Regions from separate parts of the Homo sapiens genome. Here region 1 is linked to region 2. Evidence: fine-mapped expression QTL. A gene starts in region 2. The other region holds a variant in brackets. All regions are shown on one strand. Distances are between the middles of the regions. Region 1 has its middle 11 kb from the start of SP6. Region 2 holds the start of OSBPL7 (oxysterol binding protein like 7).

Evidence for each region. PIP is the estimated chance that this variant, and not a neighbour inherited with it, causes the effect. A credible set is the group of variants that fine-mapping cannot tell apart.
Region 1: its variant is the best candidate, but not a certain one, in a credible set for the expression of OSBPL7 in fibroblasts (GTEx, PIP 0.71).

The regions. Positions count from the first base shown.
Region 1 is chr17:47,860,411-47,863,385 of GRCh38, reverse strand. It overlaps a transcript of SP6 not described here. Among named protein-coding and RNA genes, the nearest start is that of SP6, 11 kb to the right of the region's middle. The variant C/T (reference allele first, on the strand shown) is at 1,005.
Region 2 is chr17:47,820,445-47,823,216 of GRCh38, reverse strand. It overlaps OSBPL7 (oxysterol binding protein like 7), which reads left to right and starts at 1,423. Exons shown (of 23, transcript NM_145798.3): 1 at 1,423-1,551. RefSeq lists an enhancer at 965-1,134 and a silencer at 1,245-1,460.

The DNA of each region.
Region 1 (2,975 bases), 40 kb before region 2:
CACTGGGAGTAGTGCAATGAACGAAACCCCCTGCCTCCATGAAGCTTACATTCTAGTGAGGATGTTAGCTTTGGGGGAAGAGGCTGTACCAAGCACATGCCTGGAACAGGGAAGGAGCTTAAAAATATCTGTGGAATGAGTGACTAAATGCCCAGAATGAATCAGAGGTGACACTGCAAATGTTCAGCTGGTGGGTAAAAAAGAATGACTTGCTTAACCCATTCCCTGCCATGCTCCATCCCATCCTCCTTTCCTGCCCAGAGGGCCCTCCTGCTGTGGTCCAAGGGGCAGCTGGCTGTGCAGAGAGCAGGCAGACACCAGGCTCCAGGACTGCCAACCTGGCACCGCTGCTTGGCGCTGGGCGCCCTCTAAAACAACAAACTTCGTGTCTCTAATTTGGCACTTCCTGTTTATCTTTATATTATCTCCTGTCCTTGAAGCTCACAGGCTCAATCAAGGATAATGCAAAGGGCCAGAACTTTGGGGACTCAGAGATGGAAGAGGCAAGGGTGCCCTCTCTGCCAGGGTTCTAGGCTGCGCCCACAGGCACTGAGCAGAGGTCTGAAGTCCAATGCTCCAGGCACTACAGGAGGCTGAGTCTCCTCTGCACCTACACAACAGGAAGTCCCACATGCTGGGTTCTAGTTGTCCCAGGTTCATAGATCAATGCCACTTTTTCCCCTCTACGAATCTTGGTTTTCTGAACACCACAGAATAGGAAGGATTCAGCAGGAGAATCCCCTAGCTTCACTGCTGTCTCTTTCTCATCCGCACATGGCTTGGAATCACTTCTTAATGAATGACTTAACTCCTTTCACAGCCTTTGAGAAATGGATCTAACTCTGGGTGCTTTACCTTTTTTTTTTTTTTTTTTTTTTGAGACAAAGTCTCGCTCTGTGGCCCAGGCTGGAGTGCAGTGTTGCGATCTCAGTTCACTGCAACCTTCACTTCCCAGGTTCAAACGATTCTCGTGCCTCAGCCTCCCAAGTAGCTTGGACTACAGG[C/T]GTGTGCCACCACACCCAATTTTTTTTTTTTTTTTTTTGAGACTTAGTCTTGCTCTGTCACCCAGCCTGGAGGGCAGTGGCACGATCTCAGTTCATTGCAACCTCTGCCTCCCAGGTTCAAGCAATTCTTCTGCCTCAGCCTCCCAAGTTGCTGGGATTATAGGCACCCGCCACCAGACCTGGCTAATTTTTGTATTTCATAGAGATGGAGTTTCACCACGTTGGCCAGGCTGGTCTCGAACTCCTGACCTCCGGTGATCCACTCATCTTGGCCTCTCAAACAGCTGGGATTACAGGCATGAGCCACCACCATGCCAGGCTTTTTTTTTTTTTTTCTGAGACAGGGTCTCATTCTGTCTCCCAGGCTGGAATGCAGTGGTGTGATCATAGCTCACTGCAGCCTTGACCTCCTGGGCTCAGGTGATCCTCCTACCTCAGCCTCCCAAGTAGCTGGGACTACAGGCACCCTCACCATGCCCAACTAATTTTTGTACTTTTTGTAGAAATGGGGTCTGGCTATGTTGCCCAAGCTGGTCTTGAATCCCTGGGCTTAAGCAGTCTGCCCACTTTGGCCTCCTAAAGTGCCAGGATTATAGGTGTGAGCCACCGTGGCTGGCTGCCTCAGGTTTTGTTTTTTTTTCCAGACGGAGTCTCACTCTGTCTGAGTGAGACCCAGGCTGGAGTGCAGTGGCATGATCTTGGCTCACTGCAACCTCTGCCTCCTGGGTTCAAGCGATTCTTGTGCCTCAGCTTCCCAAGTAGCTGGGACTACAGGCGCGCACCGCCATGCCTGGCTAATTTTTGTATTTTTGGTAGAGATGGGTTTTCACCATGTTGGCCAGGCTGGTCTCGAACTCCTGACCTCAAGTGATCCACCCACCTCGGCTTCCCAAAGTGCTGGGATTACAGGCATAAGCCACTGCGCCTGGCCTTCAGGTTCTTGAATCCATACTCTAGGCACTTGAAAGATGAAGCTTCCTCTAGACATTGAAGTCCGCCTGGGATCAGCTGACTCTTGGAACCAAGTGAATGTGTCCACTATGCTGGGCATCAAGATGGCTGCCCTGTGGGTGGTAGGATCAGGGCAGATTCCAGACAGGCCCCCACCCCGGCCAGAGGGGCAGCCTCTGCCACCCCCAGAGCTCCAGGTAATAACCTACGGGCCACACCAGGCTCGCCAGCACCTGAGCCACCGGCAGCAGATAATGACGGGGGAGCTGGGCAGTCAGAGCCAACCCCTCAATCAGGAAGCAAATTAAAAAGGGGAGGAATCTCCCAGACAGACCACAACAATGAGACCGGCCCCCTTTCCAGGGCACTGCCCTCCTTCCCCCTACCCGCCTGATTCCGCCTGCCAGGTCCTGATACCCAGCCTCCTCTCTAATTCCCCTCTCGTGGGATCCTGCTGGAGGTTCTCTGGATGACCCTGGCTGCGGGTTGGTGGCCGTGCCCAGCTGACCAGGACACAGGATACTGGGCCTCTTATGGAGCCTTGTCTGCCACCCCTGACCTTGGATTCCTGACAGGGCACTGGGCACAGTGTCAGGGTGAAAGAGGAAGGGTCAGGGCATGTTTTTGATGCAGTGTCTTGAAGGCCATGAGGCCAACTCTCAGTGATGTGACAAAAGGGATTTATTTATTTATTTATTTATTTATTTATTTTAACTTTTTTTTTTTTTTTGTAGAGTCGGAGTCTTACTATGTTGCCCAGGCTGGTTTGCAACTCCTGGCCTCAAGTAATCCTCCCGCCTCCGCCTCCCAAAGTGCTGGGGTTACAGGCATGGGCCATTGCACCCAGCCGACAAGGGGATTTATAGAGAACTCACCAACCTCTGACCTGGCAGCCCCTTGTCCTCTGCAAAGGGTGTAAATTCAATCCAGTGCAACATATATTTATTGCACACTCAGTACTAGTTGCTGTATAAGATGCTGGGGGAGATTCAAAGATGAACAGAAATTTCCAGTCCCTCA
Region 2 (2,772 bases):
CTATTAATGGGGAATTCTGAGAGCTCTAGGGTAGGAGGCCTCATGCAAGTCTTCATGAACCAGAAATTCCTAATAAAGGAGACGGGATGCTTAACTCAGAGTCCACCATCATCCTTGACTGGAGCACATTCTGGGTGGATGCAGGGGTGACCCGGGGAAGGTGGCTGTTCAACATTCCTTCTCGGACTTGAAGCAATGCCACCGCTTCCTTAGTCTTGGACAGGCACTGTCTGGCAGGGATGACCTGCAGCAGCTCTTTTGTGGCCTGGGCCAGGACCAGCTTCCCCCAGTGCCTCATCCTGTGCTGTATGCCCAGGGATGTTCAATCACTGGGAAGTGGCTTAAAAGGCCCTTGAGGCTCCTGGATGCCAGAGCTTGTCTGGTCAGTGCTGCCCAGTGCTCCTGTCCCTCCCAGAACCCTGCCAGGTGCTAACAACACCCTCCTCCTGGGGTGGCTGGAGCAGCACTGAGGCTCTGAATAAAGGCAAGACAGTGGGTGTTCCCGAGAGATATGTGAGACCCTGAAACGTAAACCAAGCTCGGTGAGGATGAAGTGGAAGGGATAAGTGGCCCATGTCACTTTTGGGGTCAGAGAAGAAACTTGAATCACATCCTTCACCTGAGGCCCCACCTACTTCTTTCCAGAAAACTTAGCTGCGCTTGAAACTGTAGGTCTATGCCACATTCATTTGAATGAATTTTAGATCTTTGTTAAGAGCCGATTTTTCATTAGAATTGAGCAGCTGGGCACAGTACTCCAGCAGAAGGGTAAAGGGAAGGGAGGGGACCAGCATTGCAGCCCTTTTAACGGCAGCTGTGACTGCCCCAGGCCTGCTCCTGATCAGAGACTGCAGGCTGTGGGGTGTCTTCATACACACAAGCACTTTCAGATCTCCATGGGGCCTGACCTAGTGGGGCATCACCCCAGTGAAGGGCCTCAGTGTGGGGACTGCTGGCTGTCCCTTTCCTGGCTTGACTGCCCCTGCTGACTGTGCTCTTGGCACTCTCTTATGGTCCCAGAGGGGGCATCTGTCCCTCCACCATCAACCTGATACTTTTGCTGGCTCCAAATTTTGCAGTCTATTTTCAGATGTAAAATGAGAGGCGGGGGGCGGGGGTTAATTAGGAATTGGCCTTGGGTACTAACAGGGTCACTGCCATGCTAGTCTGAATAAATCCTTTATCACCACTGGCGTACAGCCAACAGTTCCCCAGTCCTCTGATCTATCTGGAACCATGCCCAGCAGGGACTGTGCCCCCACTCCCAAGCCACATCGATGCTAGGGCAGTCTGCTCAGCCCTGAGTCCTCCGGGGAGCAGGGGGGCAGAGCTGAGCGGCTGCCCGGAGCTTGGCGGGAGGAGGGGACAGGGGAGAGGGAGGTGGGGAGATCCGGCTAGAGGGGAGGCTCTGACATCTCCTTCCTTCCTGGTTCCTGCAGCAGCTGCTGCCACTGCTCAGCGCGGTGAGGAGGGAGCCGGTGACTCGGAGACGGTGACTCAGAGGCAGAGCGGCGCAAGGGCCAAGGAGTACTGGCGTCCATGGACCCTGGGGTAAGGGGGCTGCGTGGCAGCAGCTGACATTCCTGAGAAGAGCTTCCTCCCACCTGAAGCTGGTGGGTCTGCTCCTGAATAGAGGTGGAGAGGGGGCACCCACCTGGCTCACCTAGACCCTTCACCTGCCTACCGATAGAGCCTCCCCCTCTACCCACAAGCAGTGAGGGGCCAGGATCCCCACAGGGCCGGGAGAAGGGCCCAGAGATACCTGAACACCGGAAGAGTTTGAGAACTTTCAATGGCTGAATGCAGGAGTTTCCTCCCAGGTCAGCCTCTTGCAGCAAGGGTCCCTCTGCCCCAACCTCCTGGGCACCCGTTCCTGCCACATCCCTGTCCCCTCTGGGCCTCAGTTCCTCAGGTGCTTGCTAGCTCCATTAGAAGATCTGGGCTGCTTCCCCCACCTCAAACCAGCCTCGCCCCTCCAGTCCCCTCCCCCGTCTCACACATGCAGAGCCTCATGCATTATTGATCTCCCGGTGGAGCCAGGATGGCCAGGGCCAGTGCCAAGGGTGCCTGTGGGCACTGCTGCAGGACCTGTGCAGACCTGGGCATGTCCTGGGCCCCCTCTTCTCTCATGAAGTATCTCCTTTAGCCCAATGTCCTGCCCTCTCTGGGTGGGTGGCACTTCTCAGAGCCCCAAGGACTGTGAGGGTAGACAGGGGATGGTGAGGCTTTAGGGGGTACTGAGGGTCCAAAAAGGGCATCCTAGGGGCATGTTTGGTGGGAGGAGACATGGGAAAATGGGGGCTATCTCAGGCCTCAGTTTCTCCAAGCACTAGATAATATGGAGATTAATTGGTGGGAGGCTGGGGAGTTTTCTGCAAGATCATGGCAGAGAAGTCTCTGAGCTACGGTGGCAGGGTGGAGGGGTCCTGAAGGCAGAGGCAGCTGGATTGAGGAGGTCTCGCTTGTCCAGTCTCTGAACCCCTCTGTCTCTTCTTGGAGCCTCTTCTGTCACTCCCTTGCTTCACCTCTGAGCACTCCCAGGGAAGCCTCTAAAGAAAGCACTGAATGTTTCTTGGAGCCCCAGAGTATGTGCCCAAGGCGGGGCTGGGCATATGTCTTGTGGTTTTCCCTGGGCACCTGCCCGTCTGCTGTGTGCTAGTTCACTCTCAGGGCAGTGTCCATATCAGGTGAAAATGGGTGGGGTCGGGACAGAGGGGCAGACTTGGGAGAGGCTTGGCAGGTGAGCAGAGGGTATGTTGGGGAGCCCTTATC